Linked DNA regions of Homo sapiens. The protein of the gene in region 1 purifies or fractionates together with the protein of each later gene. This does not show direct contact. Each region holds a gene or a part of one and is shown on either strand. Other genes may lie near its edges.

Evidence for each region.
Region 2: the proteins of FRK (region 1) and MKI67 purify together in Homo sapiens (affinity purification with mass spectrometry; one large-scale study listed by BioGRID and IntAct). This does not show direct contact.

What each region holds. Positions count from the first base shown.
Region 1 is NC_000006.12:115,931,721-115,935,545, reverse strand, and holds part of FRK (tyrosine-protein kinase FRK), read left to right. Parts: 3' UTR 1-3,825. UniProt on the Homo sapiens protein: Non-receptor tyrosine-protein kinase that negatively regulates cell proliferation.
Region 2 is NC_000010.11:128,109,223-128,113,047, reverse strand, and holds part of MKI67 (proliferation marker protein Ki-67), read left to right. Parts: intron 1-602; coding exon 603-915; intron 916-1,002; coding exon 1,003-1,121; intron 1,122-1,231; coding exon 1,232-1,403; intron 1,404-2,514; coding exon 2,515-2,670; exon of another isoform or gene 2,671-3,101; coding exon of another isoform or gene 3,102-3,195; intron 3,196-3,624; coding exon 3,625-3,825. UniProt on the Homo sapiens protein: Protein that associates with the surface of mitotic chromosomes and acts both as a chromosome repellent during early mitosis and chromosome attractant during late mitosis.

The DNA.
Region 1 (3,825 bases):
CCACTTGGCTCCCTGGCTTCAGCCCCCCTTCCAGGGGAGTGAATGGTTCTGCCTTGCTGGCATTCCAGGCACCACTGGGGTATGGAAAATAAAACTCCTGCAGCTAGTTCAGTGTCTGCCCAAATGGCTGCCCAGTTTTGTGCTTGACACCCAGGGCCCCAGTGGCGTAGGCACCGGAGGGAATCTCCTGGTCTGCAGGTTTCAAAGACCATGGGAAAAGTGCAGTATCTGGGCTGGAGTGCACCGTTCCTCAGGTACAGTCCCTCATGGCTTCCCTTGGGTAGAGGAGGTAGTTCCCTGACCCCTTGTGCTTCCTGGGTGAGGTGACACCCCACCCTGTTTCAGCTGGCCCTCCATGGGCTGCACCCACTGTCCAACCAGTCCCACTGATATGAACTGGGTACCTCAGTTGGAAATGCAGAAATCACCCGCCTTCTGCGTTGATCTCACTGGGAGCTGCAGACCAGAGCTGTTCCTATTTGGCCATCTTGCCAGCAATCAGACCAGAGTTTTAAATGGACTACAAAATAGGTCAAACTCTATTTCAGAACTAGAGGCTAGGAATAATGTCCAAACTTGGTTATGAAAGTTTTTTTTTTTTTTTGGTCTGGTAGGATAAGAGGGTTTTTACTCATCTTAAGTTTGAATTAAACTTTGTAACAAAGTTATTGTTTTTTTAAACAATGCATGTATCAAATTATCTGTCTCATTAGATAACTAGGTAGACTTTTCCAAGATGGTTTCAAAATCAAATATATATTCAAAGATCTTCCAGTGTAAAGCAATAGGAATGAAACAAGCCATGAGAAAGCAGAATATTTTGAGTATATTCTCATGCCTTTCTTTAAAGGAGAAGCGCCTATCTAAACAGTTACAGAAACCCAAATTCAAAGTAGATTAAACAAGAAGTAAATTTGTAAACTCTTTTAACTGGGAGACAGGAAGTAGGGAGGGCTCCAGGCACAATATCATTAGCAGTTCAATGTGAACGAAGACCCATGTCCTTTCCAAGCCTCCCTCTGCCATCAGCATTGCCCTCCTTCCCAGGGTCACAGATGGCTATCAATGGCAAAACTGGGGTTCCGCGTTCTCTTCTCCTCATCTGGCAAGAGAAAATGGGAAATCTCTATCCCAAGCTTGGATTAAAAATTATTTTCATTTTTGTGTTCCAGCAAACTTGGGTCCTATGCCCAGCCATGGACCAAAAATAGGCTTAATGTGAATGTTATGTGCTGATTGGATTAAAATAAGTTCTGACTCTGAATCTGGGAATGTGGTCACCTTCCTCAGAGACAAGTTGAGAGGTTGGCTTATCTGAATAAAAGCAGAGAATATGAGATGCTGGAGAGGTGTTCATTAAGGAGAACATTCCCTGAGGTGAATTAACGGTTAGAATTATCTATCTCTGTATTTATCTATCCACCCATCTATCATCATCATCACCTCATCTCCCTCCTTTCTCTCTCTCTAAATATATACATGCGGGTATGTTGAGTGTGTATATATTTATTTTTTTGTGTGTTTATATGGTGTGTGTGTGTGTGTATTCCAGGCAGATGTGTGCATATATACCCAAACTTTCCTGATGACCTTGAAATTAAATGGGTCATGTGAAGCTAAAGATTATAGAACCCCTTGATTCCTTTATAAACAGTATTTCTAAGATAAGATCAACACTAATCTTTCAAATTAGTTGACTGTGTATAGAACAACTTGTTTATTTAAAGTCATCTAGTCTAATGCAATCAAGGAGTAAATTATAAATAACCAGTTAGCATAAATGGAAAGAAAATAGTTCCTTTTCTTTGAATTCATTTCATGTTTAATTTTTCTTGCGCACATATAGAAATGAATAGAAATATTCCCATTTCAATATGCAAATTCAGCCACTATATAGTTTGTTTCTTTTTGGTAGCTAATAATAATAAATTTTTAAGTAAGATCTGATTTTGAAATATGAAAAGAAGTTTATCCTTTCCTGTTTTAATACCACCTGATACCCGTTTAACTTACTGTGTTTGATTCTTGGGGACATTTATGTTCAAGGTTCTGTCAAAGCAATCTATTATTCTTGTTTTTACCTGATGGATCATGGAGAAAAATAATGGATTCAGTTATGAGAAACAGTAATAGATTTTTTTAACTGCCATAAATTTCTCTCCCTGTATTAAATAAAAGGATCAGGAAAAGATAAGTTGAATTTTCCTACAATGAGCCAGCTCTTCTTAAATTTACCTCCCATAAATTGTAGCAAAGCACTTTTCATATAATGTTTTATTTATGTAATTCAGTTATTTGGAGATGGTGGTGAGGGATGTGAGTACATCATTTCATGTTGTATTTCAAATCTCTTTTGACAGAAACCCTAAGAATTTGCAATAAAGAAAATTCAATGTTCCATTAAGTTTTTCTTTTTCTTTTTTTTTAAAAAGAGGGTAAGGAAGGAAATAAGGGAATAGATTTAAGTTACCTAAGGTCAAAAGAGGCACAGGGTAGACTCTGAATAGTTGTGGAACCTGAATATTTTGTCATCAAAAACAAAGTTAAAGTCAGAGTGACCAGGAATCTGCAAACTGGCTGTGGGAATGGGTTGACTTAAAAGACAGACAAAGAACTAGCCTGTGGGGTAACATCAGGCTAGGCTCACCCTCAGCTTCTACCCACAATATCTGTATGATGACCATGTGGATCTAATGAACCAGGAGGGGCCCAAACTCTTCCGACTCTGTGGAGGCCTAAAGGAAACTGTTGCCATTGGAAGGATGCCATACCACTACCCAGCTGGAGCTTCCTGAAGGAAGCAGAGCCCAGCTGGTGTTCCATGGTTTGTTAAGCATATGCCATACCTACAATCACTTTTTTCATGGTCTGGTTGAGCATATGATTTCTGAACCAAATAGCCTTTCTGGTATTGTGTCATTGGTGACTCATTATGATTCTTTAAAAAGACACATTATGTGAGCTAGAATGGTGATGATTTGGGTACCTTATTCAAATTGCATCATCATTTAATTCAAGAGAAAGGCCATTCTTAAAGTAAAAGTAAATGAGGTTTGTACACCTGGGTATTGGAATTGCCAGTGGGCTGATCTGACAATGTTTGATTCTTGTTTTTTCTGGAATTATTATGTAGAAGATTCAGTCTATAATCTTCAACATGATGCAAATATTCAGTGTCATAGGATCAAAAAAATGCTGGAAAGTATCTAAAAATCTTTTAAATTCATATCTTAATTTTCAGTGTTATCCTCTTACTGCCTACATTCCCCCACTAAACTCTTAGATTTTTCTCTGCTTTTGTTAAGAAAGTGATGTTAGTAGGCCTCTCAAGTTATTTATGAAATTTAGAAATATACTGGAGAACAAAGTAGTATATAAACCCTGAATTTCAAAAGCCTTAACAAGTTTAGCTTCAATCTACATTCAGATGACACTATCTACAGAGATGTTATAAGATTAAATTACAAGAAAAGAGATGCCCAATTATTTCCATTTACTCTTCTTGCCTAGGTAGTTAATTTATCTATTATTCATTTGAAGCAACAGACGTCAATGTAACATCTTTTTCATTTTCATGGAGAATAATCAGCTTTTCCAGAAAAGGGTGCTATATCTCAAACACACCTCAAGTGTCCAGTTGGAAGTATTACCATGCAGAGGATTCAAGTCATATTACCTAATAACCAGAAGTTGTATGTTGGGAAAAAGTGGTTAAAAGCAACTAAAACTGCCCTGTTTGGAAGAAACTAAATATTGCTTTATAATGATTTTCTGATATTTTAGAATAGAGGCTTCAATTATACTATTTGTGAAAAAGAAAACTGC
Region 2 (3,825 bases), on another chromosome or scaffold:
AAGGCTATAGTTAAGGCATTTACCTGGTGTGAAGGAAAATCAATGGCACATCTTCCTTTTACACCTTCAGCTCTTTAGAATATTTGCTTGCCTGTTCCTTTGCTGTGTTGTCCTTCCTGGGTTTCACACCTCTGGGAAGTCATGGCCCTATAGCTCATAACCTTTGTAATAGGGCCTGGGCGGTCTTTCTTTCCTTCTCTTCCCAGCAGGAGTGGAAAGTGATGTCTGGCTCCCTTTCCATTTTACACTGGCTCCCAGGGGCAAGCAGTCCTCCCTCCATGTGGACTGCCGGGGGCTGGGTGCTCACAGCTGGTATTTACTGGGACTGAGATCAGACCCTGCTTGTCTTTCACTGATCAGGATGTTCCTTCCACCTTTTTACCTGAAATGACCTCACTTCAGACTTGGCTTGCTTCTCTTTCCTTTTCCTTAAATGACTGAGACAGTCTCACCTCTACCATAGTCTTCAAAGACAGTGGCTTAAGCATTTGATGCTTCAAGATTTAAACAGCTGAAATTCTTAACTGAATAGGTTTTTATCAGTCATTCCAGAGATGTTAGATCCTTGTTAAGGCTTCTTGTAAACAATTTTGTCTTGTCAGGAACAGCCTCAACCATCAGGAAAACAAGAGTCAGGTTCAGAAATCCATGTGGAAGTGAAGGCACAAAGCTTGGTTATAAGCCCTCCAGCTCCTAGTCCTAGGAAAACTCCAGTTGCCAGTGATCAACGCCGTAGGTCCTGCAAAACAGCCCCTGCTTCCAGCAGCAAATCTCAGACAGAGGTTCCTAAGAGAGGAGGGAGAAAGAGTGGCAACCTGCCTTCAAAGAGAGTGTCTATCAGCCGAAGTCAACATGATATTTTACAGATGATATGTTCCAAAAGAAGAAGTGGTGCTTCGGAAGCAAATCTGATTGGTTAGTCTGACATTAGAATACATATATTAAGGTGAATTTTTTCATGAATGCTAATTTTTGAAAAGTTTCGTCTTTTCCCTTTGACAGTTGCAAAATCATGGGCAGATGTAGTAAAACTTGGTGCAAAACAAACACAAACTAAAGTCATAAAACATGGTCCTCAAAGGTCAATGAACAAAAGGCAAAGAAGACCTGCTACTCCAAAGGTAGGGGCCTCACTGAATGGCTGCTTTACACATACCGGTGTCATCGAAGCTTGCATTCAGTGTGGATTTATGCTTTAATGTCCTGTTTACCTCCTTCCTGTTTTCTACAGAAGCCTGTGGGCGAAGTTCACAGTCAATTTAGTACAGGCCACGCAAACTCTCCTTGTACCATAATAATAGGGAAAGCTCATACTGAAAAAGTACATGTGCCTGCTCGACCCTACAGAGTGCTCAACAACTTCATTTCCAACCAAAAAATGGACTTTAAGGAAGATCTTTCAGGTAAAAACGTAGTCTTAGATCTTATAAATCTTTTGACTCTACTGTTTTTTACTGTGTTAATGTTTGTTTTGCTAACTTTGTTTATCTGCTGTGAAAGAGATTATAAAATAAACGACTCAATCACCCTTCTGGGGTCTTAGTGTTCAGGGAAGATAAAGCTGTTTTGGCTTGCAAAGACAAGTCTCTGCTAATTTTTGGGATCACATGTCCTGCATGAAATAGGTGTGGAAATGTCAAATGCATGTCTTTACCCTGGAGAGCAGCGTATACATAGAAAGCTGGAAGGTGCTTTACAGTGAAGAGAGTTAACTTGTTAATCTGCAGGTACAATAATAGTTTATCCCAGGTGTGGGCCAGTTGTTGTTGAGCAACATTTTGCTTCTTCAGGATTGACTTTCTAGGTAGCTTAACTTTCTTGAAAGAAAGCCCTATGAGAAGATTCCCATAAACGATTGTTGAAGAAATATTTCCATTCAATTCCCACTCTCAGTAAATTGTGGCCTGACTTGTGTAATTTAAAGTGGGGATGGCCGGCGCAGTGGCTCACGCCTGTAATCCCAACACTTTGGGAGGCTGAGGCCTCCTATCATTCCAAACAGAATGATAATGATATTAGATTTTCAAAAATATATATTATTACTTGACAGTACTAAAAATGGGCAGCTCTTTGTCATTTTCTAAAATGTGGGTACGTGTTATTTGTACTTAAAATCTAGAACTGAGCACCCAAGACTTTGAGAAGCATGAAGGCATTTGGCCTCTAGATCCTAGCAGGGAGGCCTATGGGTCTCAGGAGCCCGTCACCAGCCTCCGTGCTCCAGAGCTCACGTGTGGGGTCTTGTTAGGAGGACCCAGAGGTCAGCTAACTTCATTTGTTTCCTTTCCAAGAAAAGCAAAGCGAAGAGCATAACATATCTTCTCTGTGCTCTCTTTTTTACAAAATGAGTACATTATTAATGGAATCACTCTTTTTATGAGGCCTATGTACCAGGATTTCAAGGGAGGAATCTACTGTTATTTCCCACCATTTGCACGTTACATGTGAGGGCTGGGATGGTTGTCTGCATGTTAGCAATATGTCAATCACTTTTCAAATATTTTCATTTAACAGGAATAGCTGAAATGTTCAAGACCCCAGTGAAGGAGCAACCGCAGTTGACAAGCACATGTCACATCGCTATTTCAAATTCAGAGAATTTGCTTGGAAAACAGTTTCAAGGAACTGATTCAGGAGAAGAACCTCTGCTCCCCACCTCAGAGAGTTTTGGTTGGTTTCCTTGTTTCCTAACACTGTGATGTTTTGGGATAGGAACATACAGTATTATTTTTTTACAAGCAGTATGATATTACTTCTCTAAAACAAATGTTCCTGGCACAAAATACCATTTCCGTCTTCTCTGTTCTAATTGAAAGGGAGATTTCAATCAGCAGTTGAACTAACATTGGCATTCATTGACTTATATAGAAAGAAAGACTCCGTTAATGTGTGTAAATGACCTGTGTACACTTTTGGCTTCTTTATTGTAAGTAACCAGGGTGACATAGCAAAAAAATACAATGGTGTCTCACCATATTTACATATAAATTACTCATATTCAAAATTACTGCCAATTACAAAACAGAAAGATAACAGTTTGTATACTGTGCAATTATTCCTGCTAACCTTTTAGGTGGGAGCAGGCCCGGGGTAAGTGTGAGATGGGAGATGAGAATCTGTCTAATCTCTCATTTGGCACTGGTCACTGTATTCCTGTCACAGAGGGAACAGCTTGCTACCCTGAAGATGTTTGCGGTAGGTAAATATTTCCTGTGTAATATGGACCCTAACCACATAAGGATAATCCATGTTATTTTATTGGCGATTTAAGGCAAGAAACAGCTGTTTGTTTCTAATGTTTGAAGGAAAAAATGCCTATATTTACGTCAATGACACAGGGCATGGCAACCTTTGGAGGAACCTTCTGAAGCAGTATTTTTACCTTCTATGATCATTTCAGCATCTAACTTTGCTTAATGATGACCCCACTATAGCACCAAATAACATTATTCTTAATTGTGCATGGCTCTTATAAGACAGATTTATAGACACATAAGTAGCCTCATGTCGTTCAGTGAATACGAAGCTAAATATTTAGTTTTTTACCATATTTTATGAGGCTGTAATACTCGATTGACATGAGACACTAATAGAATGTTTTTATTGTGTATGTTTTTATTTCAGGAGGAAATGTGTTCTTCAGTGCACAGAATGCAGCAAAACAGCCATCTGATAAATGCTCTGCAAGCCCTCCCTTAAGACGGCAGTGTATTAGAGAAAATGGAAACGTAGCAAAAACGCCCAGGAACACCTACAAAATGACTTCTCTGGAGACAAAAACTTCAGATACTGAGACAGAGCCTTCAAAAACAGTATCCACTGCAA